Homo sapiens: one gene and its partners. The protein of the gene in region 1 purifies or fractionates together with the protein of each later gene. This does not show direct contact. Each region holds a gene or a part of one and is shown on either strand. Other genes may lie near its edges.

Region 1 (6,500 bases):
CTTGGCCCTTCATGGAACCTGTGAAGAGAACAGAAGCTCCAGGATATTATGAAGTTATAAGGTTCCCCATGGGTAATACCATTAACATTTTCTAAGTATAGATTTAAAACTCTGGATGGCGGTGTGGGGGACAAATGGTTGCTGAGGTTGATTTGTACTCCTCTGCTTAGGGTAGGAAGTGTATGACGGGTGGTGGGATTCCATGCACCGTGGCGGGTCAGTGATGGCAGAGAAGTGGGTGGCTGTGTTCATTAGAGACATTCTGCAGCTGTCGTTTAGAGCCCACATGAGCTTAACGACACTAGACGCAGAAAATCCACGGTAACTGCAGACAGCACTAGATTTGAAAGCTGGCACTTTAGATATAACTTTGCTTATATTCTAACTCTTTGGTGCAAATAGAAAAACATCAGCTTATCCTCTTGATATGCTTTGCGTCTGTCGTAAATAGGTATTCCTTTGAATAATTATTCAGGATAATAATGAAAGAAGTTAGATTAAAGTACTTGACTGCTGTACTTTCAGAGGGAGAAATTCTACTTACCACAATTCTTGATTTTCCATGCCCTTGATGGGTACTGTTAATGTCACTGTATATACTCTTTATTTTACGCTTTGTCTCATATCCAAAATCAAACAAAAAAGGATGTCTTCAGAAATGTAGAATTGTGCAGTTTGGTGCTGTGCCCACACCACTCTAAAATTAATGATTAATTGAATCATTTGAGGTCGCTCAAATTAAACTAATTTGGCATTGTGTGGGTGACAACCAGTTGAAATGTTTTCTTTTTATCAGCTATGTGGCCATATTTTTGGAGAGAGCCAGAGTCTTCTGTCTCTTTTCTACCTGTAATCTATTCCAGGTGCTAAGAACTGTGAAAGTCCAGCTTGGGTAATGTAGTGAGACCCTGTCTCTACAAAAAGTAAAAAATTAGCCAGGTGCAGTGGCACACGCCTGAGGCCCCAGCTACTTGGGAGGCTGAGGTTGGAGGATCACTTGAGCCTGGGAGTTTGAGGCTGTAGTGAGCTGTGATTGCACCACTGCACTTCAGCCTGGGCACTGGAGGGAGACCGTATCTCAAAAAAAAAAAAAAAAAAAAAAAAATTGTGGAAGTGTTAAAAATGTGAAAAGGAAGAGTGAAAGGGACGCATTAGCTCCTTGAAAACTGAGTTATTTACAGGTGTTTTCTATAGCATTTAAATGTTTCACATGAATATTTTATATATTTGTAGTAATGATTTCAGTAGCCTACACCCTTTAAAGTGAACACACATCTATATGCTTTTCTTTCTCTCTTCTCTCTGACTTACCACTATTTATTTCAGTACAAGAAAATAAAGGGTATGGTTGACTCAGTCTAGAATTCTGAATGGAAGGCTGATTTGGGAATCAATATTGTCCACTATGTGCAAAATATGTTAAAACTCTTTGTGTCCATTTCCAACCATAAATTAACTGATTTTTGCATCCTCTTCCTCTGGACCATCTCAGCTTCTTTTGGGAAACCCCCATGGGAAGCTGTGTGACTTTGGGGCCCTTTCAGCCCCTGTGCACATGCACTCTGATGACGTGCAGCGATAGGTCTAGCAGATCTCGTCGATCATAGCCTACTTGCAGCCTGCTTTCTGAAAGTGTTTTGCTTGGTCCCACCCGTGAAGGTTGTGAACTTCTCCAGTTGGATACCACCTGTATGCATAGCTGAGTCTCACAAGGGGGGAAACTGACCTAATTGAGCAAGGCCAGTGATGGGCTGAAATGTGTGCTGGACAAAGTTAAAGCTATAAATGGTGTTCTTCAGTAGGGCAGTATTTTTTTTCTTGGTATTGTTCAGATGCTGAGTAAAATATTTAGTCTTGTCCCCAAGATTATCTTGTATTTGAAGACAAGATTGACAAATCAGTAATTTTACATTTTCCCACGATTTCCTTATTTGATTTTTCTAATAACATTACTTTTCTTTCCCCATATTCTGAAAAACTGTTTCTCTCATATGGATGGGATCTAACCTGTTTTACTTAGGGAGTCACACACTGGACATCAGCTGTATAGTCTGGCCCAAGCATGACTTCTTGTTACCCATGGATGGCTAGGCAGGGTTTTGCTGCTTACCCAGAATTCCCAAGTTAAGGGGAAAGGACATGAAAACTGAATAATTTAATGGTGTCTCTATATTTGGTACCACCAATATTTAGTCACCTTTTTTAACCCACCTCATTTTGTCAATTGAAAAAACTCTACGAAGGCCAGAGGAAGAAGAATGCTATCTATAGCTTTAGAATAGAAAGGAAGTATTCAGAATTGGTTATAGTTATTCAGAAAAGTCCAGACACCGCCATAATTCTTGCTTTGTTTCTGCTGCATTTTAGGCTCTCTCCATCTTTTCTTACCCATCTCCTAAAAAAGTTCGAAAAGCTTTTGGACAAACTTCTTTGTGTCGTGTCATCCTTTTACTCCCCCTCCCCCTTTTTGGGGGGTACATGTTTCTTCCTTTTAAAACATTATACATATTATATTGGGCAGCATATCTTAAGTGGTAGACATTTAGGTGGAAAAGTGAAAGGAATGTAAACATCTACTTTTACTTAGGGCCAATTTCATTGTTTTTTTCTTCTTTAAATGAGAGAACATTTTGATCTGTTCAGTCACACTTGGATGGGACATTTAGTGTGAGATTTGATGAGTCTTTGTGTTTCTTAGCGCTTTTAGATTTTTATCTCTCTCCAAACTGTTTTAGAGAAGAAAGAAAAGTTGAAAGTTGAATTTACAGATGTGATGACATACACTCTAACCAAGATAGGCTTTATTCAAGAGATAGGCAGAAGCAGCTTTTTTCCATTTCTTCTTTGATGCTTTTGTGGTGGATTTAGGATATTGATGCAAATGAATTCCTTCCCATTTGGGGATATTGTACGTACATTTACTTACCTTATTAAATGATGATCCCAATGTATTTGGTTATAGGTTTCTTTCCCCCTGGAAATTTTATAACATACTTATAATTTGGGATATTGGTAGTCAGAAGTGGGGTTTTTTTTTTCCCATTTGACTTATTTTTCCACACATAGTTAATACAATTATAGCTTTTAACAATAAAGCCAGACTTCAAGACAACCAGGGAACCATAAATAGACAAATGTTAGCGTCTATTCTAATCTGCATAGAATTCCTTAAATTAGTCCTGACAGTGAGGATTGAAGAAACCCTACTTTAGTTTTATCAGTTTAGATGGAGTACTGTTTTCACCTGTAAAATACTACAATTTAAAGCAAGTAGCTATATTGGGAAATATTCTTTGCAATAGTCTCACAAGGCTTACTTGCTTTAGAAAATAGATTATTAAATGAAGTTTGTTATTCTTATTTCATTGATGGAGCTTGAAGCAAATTCATTTGAATCATTTTACATGCAAGGGCACTGGTGTGTTCACAGATGTATTTATTATCAGTTTCTCTATATGACACCAAAACAACTGTGAGTTTAGTGAAACAAATGCAGTCTGATTGTTTTAAGTAATTAAATGATTGAATACAAACGTTCCACCTGCTCTACTCCATATAGATAGAGCCTCTTCTGTATAATTCTGACTGAATAGCTAACAGTAGTCAGTTCATCATACTTATTGTTGCTAATCTACTTAGCTTCCTTGTGCTGAATAGGGGATTGAACCAGATGACTAATAATGGTCCCTTTAATGCTAAAATGGCTGTGATTTTACATTTTTAAAAAACCCACAAAAGAATGAACTTAAGATTTAAGAACTGTTTTCCTTGGTCATAAGAATTTCTCTTAAATAAAAGCATTGGGATGATAAAAATGTAATCAAACCAACAACATAGATTCCTTTCCCAGTCCCAGTTTTGTCAGCTGGTGTTTAAAGGGAGTCAAAGATTGCTAATATTTTTTTTTCCTGTGCAGATCTGAAAACCATGAGTGAACGCCTCAAGAATAGGTACTACGTGTCTAAGAAATTATTCATGGCAGACTTACAGCGAGTCTTTACCAATTGCAAAGAGTACAACCCCCCTGAGAGTGAATACTACAAATGTGCCAATATCCTGGAGAAATTCTTCTTCAGTAAAATTAAGGAAGCTGGATTAATTGACAAGTGATTTTTTTTCCCCTCTGCTTCTTAGAAACTCACCAAGCAGTGTGCCTAAAGCAAGGTGGTTTAGTTTTTTACAAAGAATTGGACATGATGTATTGAAGAGACTTGTAAATGTAATAATTAGCACTTTTGAAAAAACAAAAAACCTCCTTTTAGCTTTTCAGATATGTATTTAAATTGAAGTCATAGGACATTTTTATTTTATGGAATAGATTTTAATCTATTTACTACTATTAAGGTAAATTTTCTATGGCATGTCCATTAGCTATTTCATGATAGATGATTAGGGGTTTCCTCAAAACCTGTGTGTGAGGAAATTGCACACAGTAGCAAAATTTGGGGAAATCCATAACATTTTCAGACCATGAATGAATGTTTCCATTTTTTTCTAATGGAATGTGAGAGTTTACTTTTATTTTATTCTGAAGGACTTTAAGGAAGGGATACATGATTTTAAAAAAGCCTGTAAGAGGTGAAATATGTGATGTTTGAAGTCTCTTTATAGACTTTTTATATATATTTTTTAAAACACTCATCTAGATGAGGTGCTTTGAGCAGTTCTGAAAAATGCAGTTCCAGGAAAGCAACTGCTTTGGTTCCTAAGGAAGAAATTCTAAATAATGCAAACTTTTAAAATAAGCATCTAGGTTTTTGATAATTCTGTCTACTTACAACAAACTTGTTAGTACATAACCACTATTTTAATAATTATTTTCTCTACACAAATGTGTAATATCATATTTGACTTTGCTTATGCAGGCCATAAGTTCCAAAAGATAATTTCCCTGCCCACAAAGGCATAAACTTGAAAACACATGAGATTGAATCAACATGCTTTAATAGGAAAAGATGTATGGTCTATATATGTATCAATCTGGTGAATCCTCGTTCTAATAAAGGTTCTTTTTCTTTTCTATGATACACACAGCCACGCTGATAATATGCAAATGAACATTTTCCTTTATGTCTCTCCAGATAATGTTTATTGTCTGAGGTAAATTAAATTCCCACCAGGGTTTGCTGTCAGTATTTTAACACCCACATTAGTATATGCGTCCAGGGTCATAACCCCCTAAAATCCATCATGCAACCTTATTAATCTGTCTTGGGATTCCAGTTTAGTGCTTGGATTTATTTCCTGATTACACTACATAGAAAAGTGAGACATCTGCCATTCCCAACTCTGGGAAAACCAACTAATATACAACCATATAAATGAAGGCCATCTTGATGGTCTCAACACTAATTTTTATGATGCAAATTTATACACTGATTTTTGTAAAGGACAAAGTTTTAAAAGCGTATTTAACTTGATGTTTTCTATCAGCATAAATAAAATGGTCATGAATAGTCATTAAAAACAGTTGCCAGTGATAATCTGCATGAAGGAAAAAGAACCCTGCAAATGGCTATTGAGTTGGAAGTATTGTTTTTGATATGTAAGAGATATTCAGAATGCTCACACTGAAAATGCCTCAACTTTTTAAAGTGTAAGAAACCACCATGAGTGGTGTCTAGATTTCTAATGAAGAATCATGATACAGTTTGGATTAAGTATCTTGGACTGGTTTTAAACAGTGCTTTGTACCGGATCTGCTGAAGCATCTGTCCAGCTGGTATCCTGTGAAAGTTTGTTATTTTCTGAGTAGACATTCTTATAGAGTATTGTCTTTAAAATCAGATTGTCTCTTCTATATTGAAAGCATTTTTATGTTTTCTAATTTAAAAATTAATATTTTCTTATAGATATTGTGCAATAAAGCTGAAGTAGAATGTGTGGTTTTTGCAAATGCTTTAACAGCTGATAAAAATTTTACATTTGTAAAATTAATATATTGTACTGGTACAAAATAGTTTTAAATTATATTTTAAAAAGCTTCCAATCTTGTGGTGTGTTTTATTCATTCAGTAGGCTGAGGTTAACAGAACAAATTATGATCTGGTTGATAACCATCAATTGAATCCTTAAACCTTAGATCTTAAGCATTCTGTTGCATTTGGGGGAGGTTTCATAAAAAATCCATAGGTCATCAGTAAGAGATTTTCAGGAGAGACACTTACTCTGTCTTTTGAGTTATCCACTGCATCTTACCCACTCACCCGCTAAACAATAACAAAAAAGATTCATTGAAAGAAGAGTGTTGTTGGTTTAGAAATTAAAAGATTTTTGTTTTTATACTTTGCATCTGTGAAATATATATGATGAGAGAAAAATACAGCCGATTTTTAAACATCTCCCATATGAGCTTCTAATGTGATTCAAAATGATGTCTGTAGGAAAGAATACTATATCCTTTTGGGGTTTGAGAGGACCCAACCAAGAGAACCCCTCTTCCCTACTGAAATCTAAACCAACTGAGAAGTTAAAAAAAAAAAAAAAAGGCATATGATGGC
Region 2 (7,041 bases), on another chromosome or scaffold:
CAAAAATATATGATCATGTTAGCCAGTTCCTTCATTTAATTTAATTAATTAATTTATTTATTTTTTGAGATGGTCTTAACTCTGTCACCCAGGCTGGAGTGCAATGGTGCGATCTTGGCTCACTGAAACCTCTGCCTCCCGGATTCAAGCGATTCTCCTGCCTCAGCCTCTGGAGTAGCTGGGATTACAGATGTGTACCACCACACCCAGCTAATTTTTATATTTTTTTTTCAGGAGAGATGGGTTTTCATCACGTTGGTCAGGCTGGTCTCAAACTCCCAACCTCAGGTGATCTGCCCGCCTCAGCCTCTCAAAGTGCTGGGATTACAGGCATGAGCCACTGCACCTGACCCAGTTCCTTCATTTTAATTAGCCAGTATTAACTTAGTTGTATTTAGATTTTGGGGGTAGAGTGTTGGCAGTAAGAAACTTACAAAATAAAACTTTGATTTCACTGTCTTAGCCACTCCCCTAAAACAATACCTTTTTCTTCTTTCCATATTAAGAAAAAATCACTTGAAATAAAGGAATAAATGGGGGAAAAAAAAAAGTCCCTTCAGTGACCAGGCGCAGTGGCTCATGCCTGTAATCCCAGCACTTTGGGAGGCCGAGGCAGGCAGATCACCTGAGGTCAGCAGTTCGAGACCAGCCTGGCCAGCATGGCGAAACCCCATCTCTACTGAAAGTACAAAAATCAGCTGGGCATAGTGGCAGGCGCCTCTAATCCCAGCTACTTGGGAGGCTGAGGCAGGAGAATCGCTTGAATCCGGAAGGCAGAGGTTGCAGTGAGCCAAGATCGCGTCACTGCACTCCAGCCTGGGTGACAGAGCGAGACTCCATCTCAAAAAAAAAAAAGTCCCTAACGCGGACAAATCTGAGACCCAGATTCTGAATCTACTGAGACATACCTCCCCCAATTCCCAGTCATCGATTACCAATCACCAAGGATCATCAGATAGCGTATGGCTTAATCTTGCTCTGTATACTAATTTCAAAATAGGACATACTCAAAGAGGTAAAACGAAGAAATAGAAATACTTTAGGTCTCTAACTCAGAAATCCTTATGTTTCTGGCAAGTAACATGCTTCTTTGCTCATGTTATATAAAAATAAAAAGTTTAGGCTGGGCACGGTGGCTCACGCCTGTAATTCCAGCACTTTGGGAGGCCGTGGTGGGTGCCTCACTTGAGGTCAGGAGTTCGAGACCAGCCTGGCCAACATGGCAAAACCGTCCCTACCAAAAATACAAAAATTAGCCAGGCGTGGTGGTGCATGCCTGTAATCCCAGCTGTTCGGGAGGCTGGGGCAGAAGAATCACTTGAACCCGGGAAGCGGAGGTTGCAGTGAGCCGAGATCACACCACTGCACTCCAGCCTGGGCGACAGACCGAGACTCTGTCTCAAAAAATAAGTAAATAAATAAAAAATAATAAAATAAAAAGCTTTTAATTTATCTCCTGTGAAATAAGTCTCAAAATTAGTGGTAGACACAACTGCAGTAAACTAACTGCTCATGAACATTGGTAAAATAAAGAAGTTACCTCTCTGAAGTTCTTTTTTCCCCTGTCTCTATACTGTCTATACTCTATACTGTCACTCTGAGGATAGTCTCTGTCTGGCCATGAAGGTTCTGAAAACATACTGATGTTTATATATTGGGCTAACACTTGATTACTGTTACTCTGCCTAAGCACCCTGACACCACAGAGGAAGGAAGATTGCTGGGTCACTATAACCCCTACGATGCAAACTTCACAATTAAGACTTGTTCTGGCCTGAGAAATAATTACCTGAATTCGAAGCCATTGGAATGGAAGGACTCAGGCCGGAATCACTACAACGAAGAAGAGGAATTTAAACTTAGGTCATATCAAACAAGGTGATTTCCAAAAGCCCCGGTGAGACTGGGTGCCATTTATCAGGTAGGTCACCTTGAAGAAGTGTAATGAGATAGACTGAACTATGTTTTACAGATATCTCACTGTATTGAGCAGGAAAGAAAATCTGTTCTGAGGAAGAAAAATTCCTCAGATTTGTTAAGAAGAGCTTGTAATCTAGAACACCACTAACACCACTCAAGGGGAAGGGATACAAACATGATTCCCCAGTGAAAATCTAGGTATGAAGAGAGAGTTGAAGTCATGGGTAGAAGGCTGGGGGAAAATACACTCATTTTAAAAAATAGGATCAAAGTAGTAAAGTATGATTCTAGGAGGTCAGTTATTTCTCAAAACTGTCAGTATGGCACTGTTTCTGAGATGGACTGCTAAAATATTTCTGAATTCTTCCAGCTACTCAATTATTATTACTCTGCCATCTAGGGTGCCCAAAAATATATGTGAAGGCCAAGGCATCCCAGAAAGAATGCCTCCTTCACCCTGGAGTAATTACTCACATGTCAGCTTGCCGGCGGAGCCACTGCTGGCAAGCACTACTGTCCTGGATATACTGGAGAACTTCTGAGAGCATAGTGCGTTTAAGGCGCTCTTCCTCCCGTGTCTTCTTGAGGTGATCGTAGGTTCTGGCACCTGGGGGTATAGAAAACACAATGACCACAATGACAATGCAGCAGAACTGAAGGGCTTCCTAACTGACCAAGAAACCGGTTTTGGGTTTTGTTCTTAAAGTCTGTTTCCTTTGCAAAACTGCTTTCACAATTATTTCTCCAAGACCCAAGTAGATTTTCCCTAGTCTGAAATCCTTTTCTTAATACTAAGTATTAAATATTAAACATTTGTATTCCTTTTCTATCTGTAAGAAATAAGGGGAAAAAAACCAACAGAAAAGTACAAAGAAAGTAAGAATTGCTCATATTTCCACTCTCAAAAAGTAACCAACTTTTACTATAGTCATATTTGCTTCCTGTTTTTTCTATTTTTATAAATTTTTTCAAAGTCACACAAGTGCTATAAGCATATGCCTTTCCTTAAAAAACAATTAGAATTACAAAAAAAGAGTTCTCTTTGACATGTAGTACCTCTTCTCCATATTTCTTAGAGGCAGCCAATATCAGGAAACCAAAATTAGTTATCAGAGTCTCTATATGCATCTTGCTAAACAGAAGAGCTGCGTGGTGTTTTCTACATGTTAACAAAGGTTCACAGATTCCAAAATACTGCACCAGTGGGTTTCAAAATTCAAACTAGGTTCCACAGAGCCCCAGGATACCACAAGAGTATCTTAGAGGTTAATGTAAAGAGAAAGGGCACTGCCAGATACCGGCGGGTCCTGGGCTCTACACATAAATTGAACCATTAAAGTTCAACCAAAGTAATTCCACTTTTATCTTTTTTTGAGACGGAGTTTCGCTCTTGTTGCCCAGGCTTGAGTGCAATGGCGCGATCTCGGCTCACAGCAACCTCCACCTCCCAGGTTCAAGCCATTCTCCTGCCTCAGCCTCCGGAGTAGCTGGGATTACAGGCATGCGCCACCATGCCCAGCTAATTTTGTATTTTTAGTAGACACGGGGTTTCTCCATGTTGGTCAGGCTGGTCTTGAACTCTGGACCTCAAGTGATCCGCCCGCCTCGGCCTCCCAAAGTGCTGGGATTACAGGTGTGAGCCACCGTGCCCAGCCCACTTTTATCTTATTTGTAGATTGGGGCTCACACAAAATTTAATTTCAAAAATGGTTTCCACTGTTAAAGAGCCATTATACTAGGCTGAACTTACATCCATAAGGCTATGTTGCACCCACAGGGCTGTGTTAAGAAGCCAACTATTGCCGGGCGTGGTGGCTCACACCTGTAATCCCAGCGCTTTGGGAGGCTGAGGTGGGTGGATCACCTGAGGTCAGGAGTTCGAGATCAGCCTGACCAACATGGATAAACCCCATCTCTACTAAAAATACAAAAAAAAAAATTAGCCGGGTATGGTGGTGCATGACTGTAGTCCCAGCTACTCAGGAGGCTGAGGCAGGAGACTCGCTTGAACCTAGAAGGCAGAGGTTGTGGTGAACCAAGATGGCACCACTGAACTCCAGCCTGCGCAACAGAGCCAGACTCCGTCTCAAATAAAAAAAAAAAAGAAGCCAACTATTTCTTATAGATAGTAGGTGACAACTATCAATAATCACAAAAACTTCAAATAGGAAGAAGGAGGGAATGCTAAAGATCATTTCAACAATGACAGCAAAACAACAGAAACTGCCATTTATTGAGGAATTATTGTGTGCCAGATACTGTGCTATGCTTATATGCAGTATCTCTAATTAAATCTTTACACTAACTCTAAGAACCTTAGAAAATTAAAACTTGAATAGAGGCCAGGCACAGTTGCTCACACCTGTAATCCCAGCACTCTGAGAGGCCTAGGCGGGAGGACTGCTTGAGGCCAGGAGTTTGAGACCAGCCTGGGCAACATAGCAAGAGTCAGTCTCTAGGGAAAAAAAAAAAAGGAAAGAAAAATAAATTTGGATAGAATCACATCACAGAGCTGGCAAGCTGGAGAGCCAAAATTTATACTCAAGCTTTTTAAGTCTAGACCCAAGCTCTTAACTACTATAATACACTATCTCTTATGACCTGGTTCTAGTACTAACTAGCTCTGTAACCTCTTTATACCTTAATTTCTTCACTAAATGGAAGTAACGGTACTTTATAAGTTTGTCATGAGAATTCATTGACTTGATCCAAGTGAAATGGTTAGCATAGAGACTGGTACATGGTAAATATCTGATAGATGTTAGCTGCTAATAATATAATTATTGTCACTACCCCAAGTAACTGGGATGCAAGCACCTGGAGCCAGTTGAAGCTTCATTATTTTATAAAAATGCTAAGACCATGTATCATTAAATTTGAAAAGGGTGACACACCTAAAATATAAAATTCCTTTTTTTTTTTTTTGAAACAGAATCTCCCTCTGCCACCCAGGCTGGAGTACAGTGGCACCATCTTGGCTCACTACAACAACTGCTTCTCAGGTTCAAGCGATTCTTGTGCCTCAGCCTCCCGAGTAGTTGGGATTAAACGTGTGCACCACAACGCCTGGCTAGTTTTTTTATTTTTAGTAGAGGTAGGGTTTCACCATGTTGGTCAGGCTGGTCTCGAACTCCTGGACTGAAGTGACCCACCTGCCTTGGCCTCCCAAAGTGCTGGGATTACAGGTGTGAGCCACTGCACCCGGCCCAAGATTCCCTTTTTTTAAAGAGCCTCGGCAGAATCCTAAATCTAAAGCAGCACCTCTCTTTCCTTTGTCTCACAACTTTTGTAGTACCAAAGATAATCTATACAAAGGTATTTATAGGGATTAAATAGCCAAAACTTTACTGGAAAGGTTTAAAGCATTCTGGTAAAGGAAAGCTTGTTTTTTAAAAAAAAATTCACAACAATTCAGAGACTTCCTCTGTGTGTCTGGAAGATACTTGCCCTCAAGTACGGTATGTAGCTGAAGCATACTTACTACAAAAATTGGTAATGCCTGCTGTCCTGTATTCTTGGAGCCTCTTGATTTCCCTTCGGAGTTCAAATTCCACTGTTTTCCCCAAAAGGAATGAAGGAAAAAATTACAAAAACAAAAGCAACATTAGTGAGCACTTTTGCTATTGAGCATTTTCATTAATTCTGCCTTATAAGACTAGGGAAGTTCATTTGGAGAATCCTACTCGTTGGTAACTTCTCATTAGAAATTTTACCCAAGAGCTGAGGAAAACCTACTCCAGCTATCTTCCAGCTGCTGTCTCCAGATGCAGCAGCTGGAACTGTCTTCTAGAAAACTTAGTGAAATGGTTAAATTCATTTGTCTACAAAAGTAACAATTTTTTTTTTCTTTTTTTGAGACAGAGTCTCGCTCTGTCGCCCAGGCTGCAATGGCATGATCTCGGCTCACTGCAACCTCCACCTCCCGGGTTCAAGCAATTCCCCCTGCCTCAGCGTCCTGAGTAGCTGGGATTACAGGCATCTACCACCACACCCGGCTAATTTTTGTATTTTTAGTAGAGATGGGGTTCTGCCATGATGGCCAGGTTGGTCTCGAATTCCTGACCTCAGGTGATCCACCCGCCTCGGCCTTCCAAAGTAGCTGGCATTATAGGAATGAGCCACCGCACTGGGCAAAATATAATTTTTTTAACAACCAAGTTTCCCTGCTCTAACTATCTTCTATTAAAAGTTCTACAAATCATTCTAATTTGGCTGCTTTTGAAACAGAGAATGAAGGAAGAGCCTGGACAATCCATGGGGTGTAGTGTTTTGGAATGACACATAAACCAGGGGTGTGTCCCAAACTGGGACAGGAAGTAAAGGATCAGTCACCTGGTACAAACCACACAAAGAATGCTAACCAAACAAGGTGTTTGGTGAGGACAACCAACCTGGCTCAGATAAATGTCTGCAATGCTATGTAAGAAATATTTTCACGGTGAGAATAAGGGCCTTAGTAGACTACCTTCCCAGAACTAAACTTAGAAGCCACATACACAAATGTCATGATGAAAGGTACAGAACAAGCCAGAGTCCATATTATTTTAACAATCTAGGCCTTACTGCCATACCAACATATTTTGTTTTGAAACAGGGTCTCACTCTGTCGCTCAGGCTGGAGTGCAGTGGTGTGATCTCAGCTCACCGCAACCTCGGCTACCCGGGTTCAAGCAATCCTCCCACCTCAGCCTCCAAAGTAGCTGAGACTACAGGTGTGCACTACCATGCCTGGCTAACTTTTGTATTTTTGTAGAGATGGAGTTTTACTATGTTGCCCAGATTGGTCTCGAACTCCTCGACTCAAGCAATCCTCTTGCCTTGGCCTCCCAAAGTGCTGGGATTACAGGTGTGAGCCACCACGCCCGGCCTCATAACAACTTTTAATTTTTTATAGTGAAAAATCAAATGGTAACTATGTAGAGCTCTCACAGAAATACCACAGAAAGGCAAGAGATCGATGGAAGTACTATCTCCACAAGCTATCCATCTCTGTCCTCATTTTTAAAACTACTTTTAATACTAAAATATTTATGAACAAAATAAAATGATGTCTGGGATTTGCTTCAGAATAATCCAGTTGAGGGCAGGAGGGAAGAGTGAGTGGTAAAGATGAAACCAGAC
Region 3 (7,041 bases), on another chromosome or scaffold:
GCTATATGATGAGGGAAACTAGGAAGTCCATTCTAAGATATGTCGTGTTTGGTAAGGACATTCTAAGGAAATTAGGAAGGCGGGTGCAGGGAAGAAAAAAATGGTATTCATACCTCCTCCTCCAGAATATCACAAGCCAAATGGATGCGGGACACGTCTACTTGGTGGGGCTCTGATTTTAACTTCTTGGATCGTAAACTCCAAAGTTTTATACAGGAGTTGTCAAACCCAGCAGCAAGCAGCTTGCTATCGGGGGAGATTTCTGCAGTGTTCAACAGCTGCTCTGTGTTATAGAAGGCATAGAAGCAGATGGTAGTGAGGGAGGGAGGCCCATCCTTGACTCGCTTAATGCTCTCCTGTAAGACCTCTAGGGCAGCCTCGTTCTGCAGAATAGGGCTGGGCATGTCGGGGGGCTCCAAACCGTTGTTCTCACTGCGGGAGGAGCTGCCACTGGCATACAGCTGATAGTCTGTTCTCTTGGCAGGCTGCACGTCAAGATGAATATGTAAGGTGAGGACTTTGCACAGGGCAGTATTGTTGTCACTTTGGAGGTAGCGGATAAGGTAGTTGTAGCTGTCTTCTTGGAGACGGACCACGTACTTGTTATCTAGGAATGCTCGAAGCTTGAAGTTAGATAGGATGTCCTGGATGGTTTGAGTGGTCTGTAGCTGCTCAATGACATCCTTCTGGCTAGCATTCTGCAGAAACATTCCATGGAAGCGGCTGTAAAAACTTTCCACTGTGCTCTTCGGACTGTTTTGGACCAGGTTGAGATGGAGGTAGACAAAGAGAGGATAGAGGAGAGGCATCACTTCGTGGCTATGCTGGGAATCAGAATCTATAATGAAAGAAAAAGAAGGCTTTATAATCAGCATAATCTTACAGAATAACGTGATCCCTCCTGGGGATCACCACCATCATATAATGCTTTCTTGCCAGGACCCCATTTTTTAAGAGTACTGATTGAACTATAAGCCCAACACAGGATTCTGGAATTTCAAAGGCCTTTTGATTGAAGAAAGAGCATGAACTCTGAAGTCCAGCAAATCAGGGCCTGAAGTTGGGCACAACGCAGGAACTTAATGCCCAGAGTGGTTAAGTGACTTGCCAGAGTTCACAACAATACAGTGGCTTGTACCCAGGTCTTCAAGATTTAGTATTTTTTCCCAATATGTTAGTGTTTCTTCAAATTGGGGACCTCAGATATCTGAGGGTACTTAGACATATTCTTGGAAGATTGAGTTCTTCACAATTTTTTAATGTGATGATAATATAAAAAATAATCAACACACAGTATATTCAGAATTATCTGGATGTCCGCTTAACAAGTAAGTACTGACAAGTGATTTTAGTGCTCTAGTTTGTGTTTTGTGATTACTTTTGGCATCCATTGTCTCAAGTAAAATCAAAGCACTTATTTTAGTGGGCTCATTAACATGTCTGGTTATACAGGCTGGCGTGTCCTGTGTTAACATGACAGCCTTCATTAACAATTGTCTCATCAGCATATTCATTCTGATTTTGTTGGTTAACAAGTTAAATTCTCTTTTGCAGTGATAATTTACAAATAAGACCATTTTACGTCATTAAGACTCAACTACTTACTAACTTGGGAGTTTAGCGCCATGAAACTGTAAGACAGAGAATGTTATTTAAAAGGTGTACAGCTTGAATTCATGGGTGAATGAGAAAAGAACAGAGGTATAATTGACACCTAAATAAGTGCTTAAGGCATGCTGTGAGGGAGCAAAGGTTTCGATGTGATTCATACACAGTGGGGAGACAGCAGGGCCACTGCAGGGCAGAAGCCCCCCAAGGAGCTGAGACCAGCCCGTGTCACAGTCACCAGTGCTGTCCAGATGCCTGCTTGCAGTAGCAAGGTAGTTCTGGCAAAATCCATCCGTTACATTCACTCAGTGTTATTTTCAACTTGACTGCCTTTGGGGTTTTGCTTGTCCCTTATCTGTAATGAGTCTGGGTTTCATAAAGAAATATAATAAGCATAAAGGTTTTAGATCTAGTGTAATGTTTGTACATATTTAAATAAATTAAAATAAAAATGTTTTAAGTCAGCACTTATGTTCTGGTAGCATTTTTTTTTTTTTTCATGAAAAGGCATCAATACAGGGTTTAAGACTGAGGAATACTGCATCAGAGAATCTTGCTCCCTAATTTGATGATAAAAGATATCTGCATGTTATTTCTGCTTAACACCCTATTTCACTTTATCACAAGGTGAATGAATCTGCTGCATAATATTCATAATATGCATTTTAGAATAAATGTATCCCTACTCATTATTTAGAGGATGAAAAATTACAATCATTCCACTGAACTGGAAGTTAAGACAGCCACCCAGCCACTTTGGGCTCCTCACACCTCTGAATCAATAGGCAAGGAAGGGAGTTACAGTGTTGGCTGGGGTAATTGATCCTGCCCAAGAGGAACTGGAACTGCTACACAATGGAGGTAAGGAGGAGTATGTCTGGCTTAAGGAGATCCCTTAGGACATCTCTGTACCCTGCCCTGTGATTACAGTCGATAAAAATGACAACAATCCATACAGGACTATGAATGGCCCACACCCCTGAAGAATGAAGGTTTGGGTCACCCCACCAGGTAAACCACGATCAGCTTGCGAGATGAGTGCAAAGGGAATACAGAATGGGTAGTGGAAAGAGGCAACCATGAATACCAGCAACCACCATGTGACCAGCTACAGAAACGAGGACTGTAATTGTTGTATTTCTTGTTTTGTTACGAATGTTTTGGTGTGAATATCTATATATAGATATATAAAAAGAAAATATCTTCGCATTCTTTCCTTTCTCGTTCCCTTATCATGGAACATCGGATTACTGACTTTATTTTTTTGAGATGGAGTCTCGCTCCGTCACCCAGGCTGGAGTACAGTGGCGCGATCTCGGCTCATTGCATCCTCTGCCTCCTGGGTTCAAGTGATTGTCCTGCCTCAGCCTATTGAGTAGCTACAGGCGTGTGACACCACGCTCAGCTAATTTTTGTATGTATATATATATATATATGTATTTTTTTTTTAGTAGAGATGAGGTTTCATCATGGTGGCCAGGTTGGTCTTGAGCTCCTGACTTTAAGTGATATACCCATCTCAGCCTTCTGAAGTGCTGGGATTAAGGGTGTGAGCCACTGTGCCTGGCCAGATTACTGACTCCATATCATAGTATTTAAGTATTGTTAACTTTACCTCACCGTATCAAAATTATGGAATATCACGGAGAGGAGTAAACATCATCCAAGGACTTTGCATTCTCCTCCGGGGAAAAGGTTAGTGTGTTTTTTGGTTGTACACAGGATAATTTTATTAGGTTAGGTGGAAGTATGAACTTGTTATTCTCTTTATTTGGAGATTAAGTATGGAATAAGGAGATGCATACAGGTGCCAAGTTAATAAGGAGTGGACTTGTGAGGTTACTTTTACATGTCAAACTGTGGGGGGGCCCACGGCACACAGATATTCAGTCAAACATTATTTTAAATGTTTCTGTGAAGGTATTTTTTTTTTTAGATGAGATTAACACATTTAAGTCAGTAGACTTTGAGTAAAGCAGATTACCTTCCATAAAGTGTGGGCCTCATCCAATCAATCAATCAATCAGTTTAGGCTTTAATAGAAAAAGACTTATCTTCCCCTAGTAGAAGGAATTCTGCCAGCAGAGAGCCTTTGGATTTGAACTGCAACACTAACTCTTTCCTGGGTCTCCAGCCTGCTGGCCCGCCCTGATTTTGAATGTGCCAAGCCTCCACAATTGCATGGAACAATTCCTTAAAGTAAACCTCTACATATCCATCCTGTTGGCTCTTGGCTGTTTCTTTCGAGAACTGTGACTAGATTTTGGTTTTTCTTTTCCCTTTGTTTTTTATTGGGATGAAGGATTGTTTTCAATTCCTTAGAAACAAAATTTCAGGCTCCTTTTCTAAAATGAGAGGCATTTCAATTGAGTAAGTTTAGAAAAAAACCTAGCTATCAAGAAATAGTGATGTACTACTTTAAAACTTACTGAAATTCACTGTTGCTTCAGCTCATAGGTTCAAAATTGCTTAATTGCTCTCTCTTGTCTGAAGAGAACAGTATGCTGGGTATAAAACAAAAAAACTGATCAATTTGGAAGAAGGTGAGATTCAGAATTCTAACTCCCATTTTAAATTATTCCCTTGCAATCTAACATACTCTGTATTTTACTGAAAGTGTACTCACTTAAAATATATTTTTTTCTAACTGCAAAAGTAACAAACATATCCTCTGAAAGTACACTTTTTCTTCCTTCTATCTACCCACTGAAATGTAATGAATGCCTACCTGGTGCCCAACTCTACTGGCGGTAAATGAGAGAACAATGGAGTTTTTCATGAGTTCATGGAAATTAGTAGTAAAAAGGATACTAAATTAAACAAAACTAATCCTGTCGGTCCTCATTCTCCTCTACCTTTCTTCAAGGTTTGGCTCTATTGACTAGCACTCCTCTGTCCTTTATTCTGAAAGCCCACACTACTTGGTCCTGTCGTCACTCCCTTTTTGGTTCCTCTTCCTCCTGTCAATCCTCAAATGCTCATTTCACTTTAAAGAATTAACACTGGGTGTGTGCCTCTTAGGAGCCAGGTACTTTGCATCCATGATCATGTTTAAGAGTCACAGCTGGCCCTGGTTCAAATCCAGAGGTTGCTTGACTCCAAAGGCTGTGTTCTTCCCACTACACCTCCTGAAGAATAGGACCTACGGCAATAGGTGAGCTCACAGAATCTCTCATCTACAGACAACCTGTGGAGGAAAAATACATTCAGGTGGATATAGACATAGATACTCTTATATCTTTCCCTAGTATCTTCCTTTGAGATTTTATCACTTCTTAAGACTTTAATTTGCATCTCCATGTAGCTGATGCTACATGTTCTTTATTACAAGTCTTTATCTTTCTCCTAAATCCTAGCCTCAAATTTCCCACTGCAAGCTATGCAGTAGGATGCCACTGTCATGACAATTTAACAAACATAAACCCTTCTGACTTATTTATTTTCAATAAATCTTCATCTCCACTCCAGTCTTAAAGCCTGAGCCATCGTCACCTCTTCTTCCTCCTTTACTCCTGAGCCTTGGAGATTCCACCTTGGTAATTTAACTATGAAATAAAGCTCCTGCCTTCCAGTTCCACAATGCTGTCAAATTCTGGTCCTTTCTCACCTCATTTCTCAAGATTGCCAAGCACTTTAATTCACAGTCAGTCTCCCTGCCATTCCTCTTACAAATAATTTTACAAACTGCTTTCAGACTAATATTCATTGATCTCCAGCCTGAAACCCCCATTCACAACAAAGCCTTAGTTGTTCCTGTACAGTCGTCAAGCCTGCCTTTTTGCTCATGTTATTTCTTACCCAAATTACTCCTCTTCCTCCTCCTCTTCCAGTCTACTGAAACTCAATCCATCCTTCAAGTGCTGACTTAAAGCCTACCTCCTGCTCAGTAAAGCCTTCTCTGACTACCGCCAACCAAATCACTTTCTCCTTTCATTCTGAATGCAATTCCTATATGATTCAGCAATTGATCTCATGCTGGTCTGTGAAAGTGCTTCTGTGATATTCAAATTTTATGTAAAAACTTTTACCTATAGTGTTTTTATGCTAGGACTGCTTCTAAAATAGATTAATGAGTATATCTTACACTTTATCTTGGTGATCAGGAAATAACTATTCATTTGATTTGGTTAACTGCTCTTCAGAGACCTGAGGGTAGAGAAAAATATTCCAGGAGCAGCAGTCCAAAGTGATCAATATATATTAACCCCTTTAAAATAATGATCCTTTAAACCAAAGGATTAAAGAATCAAATTACAGACAAAATAACAGACAACTTTCTCAGTTCAGAAATAAAGTAAGAACTTAAAGGAAATGGTTGATAGACTATAATCTTTTGAAATGTAAAGTTCTGGCCAAACAATCCTTGTGGTAATAATTTTTAATGGTAAACGACGAGTATACAGTAATCAATATATAAACCAAAATAATACACCTGGCCTTACACACGCATAGAATTATCCTAGTTTTACCTGGCCCCCATAATGGTATTTTAAAGCAAAGAATCTATATTTACTATAGTCTACAGTTGGAGAAAATGGTCAAAATATTACAGGAAATAAGGGTTACAAAATAAAACCCTCTAGTGGGGTTATCTTATCAGTTTCATGGTTGTTGGGTGACAGAATTCATAAGTAGAGAATAGTCTGTTTAATAGTTACAAAAACGAAAAATCATGAAAATTAAGGCTTTAGTAAAATGACTCTATTATGTTTGAAAAAAAGGAAGTTCCATTAATTCTGCATATCATATAAATCTTAAATATTTCAGTGCAGTGATCAATTTCCACTAAGGATAAAAAAAGAAAAACCGAATTTATAATAAGGGTTTCTTTCATTGAGAGGTAAGAACTTAGAGATATTTTTTATCATTGGCATTGGTTTCTGAGGCTTTAAGCAACTTGCAGAAAAATTTAACTCAGTTTTTAGAAAGTTATTTTACTCAGTTAAAAAAATATGATATTAATCTCTCCATGACAGATTTATTTTCACCATACTAGTGGTGGGGAAGCTGGTTTAGAAACAAATGTCTTGGCTGGGTGTGGTGGCTTGTGCCTACAATCTCAGCACTTTGGGAGGCCAAGATGGGAGGACTGCTTGAGGCCTGGAGTTTGAAACCAGCCTGGGCAACACAGTGAGACCCTGTCTCTACAAAAAAATTTAAAAAAATTAGCCAGGTGTTGTGGCACATGCTTGTGGTCCCAGCTACTCAGGAGGCCGAGATGGGAGGATCACTTGATCTCAGAAGGTCAAGGCTGCAGTGAGCCGTGATCATGCCACTGCACTCCTGCCTGGGCAACAGAACAATACCGTCTCAAAAAAAAGAAAAAGAAGCAAATTATCTGGCTTCTTTGAGCCTGTCTCCTTCATTCGTTCAGCCTGTATTTATGTTAAGTGCTGACTACATGCCAGGATAGATATTGTCCTAAGATATATT

What was found. Proteins that work in one complex are often made in the same cells at the same time.
Region 2: the proteins of KAT2B (region 1) and TADA2A purify together in Homo sapiens (affinity purification with mass spectrometry; 6 studies listed by BioGRID and IntAct, with this or other methods). This does not show direct contact.
Region 3: the proteins of KAT2B (region 1) and TAF5L purify together in Homo sapiens (affinity purification with mass spectrometry; 5 studies listed by BioGRID and IntAct, with this or other methods). This does not show direct contact.

What each region holds. Positions count from the first base shown.
Region 1 is NC_000003.12:20,148,416-20,154,915, forward strand, and holds the end of KAT2B (histone acetyltransferase KAT2B), read left to right. Parts: coding exon 1-72; intron 73-3,916; coding exon 3,917-4,110; 3' UTR 4,111-5,989; downstream 5,990-6,500. UniProt on the Homo sapiens protein: Functions as a histone acetyltransferase (HAT) to promote transcriptional activation. Has significant histone acetyltransferase activity with core histones (H3 and H4), and also with nucleosome core particles.
Region 2 is NC_000017.11:37,465,886-37,472,926, reverse strand, and holds part of TADA2A (transcriptional adapter 2-alpha), read right to left. Parts: intron 5,474-7,041; coding exon 5,402-5,473; intron 2,528-5,401; coding exon 2,395-2,527; intron 1,834-2,394; coding exon 1,790-1,833; intron 1-1,789. UniProt on the Homo sapiens protein: Component of the ATAC complex, a complex with histone acetyltransferase activity on histones H3 and H4. Required for the function of some acidic activation domains, which activate transcription from a distant site. Binds double-stranded DNA.
Region 3 is NC_000001.11:229,602,082-229,609,122, forward strand, and holds part of TAF5L (TAF5-like RNA polymerase II p300/CBP-associated factor-associated factor 65 kDa subunit 5L), read right to left. Parts: intron 5,755-7,041; exon of another isoform or gene 5,727-5,754; coding exon of another isoform or gene 5,693-5,726; intron 4,796-5,692; exon of another isoform or gene 4,337-4,795; intron 4,113-4,336; exon of another isoform or gene 4,038-4,112; intron 839-4,037; coding exon 114-838; coding exon of another isoform or gene 108-113; exon of another isoform or gene 1-107. UniProt on the Homo sapiens protein: Functions as a component of the PCAF complex. The PCAF complex is capable of efficiently acetylating histones in a nucleosomal context. The PCAF complex could be considered as the human version of the yeast SAGA complex.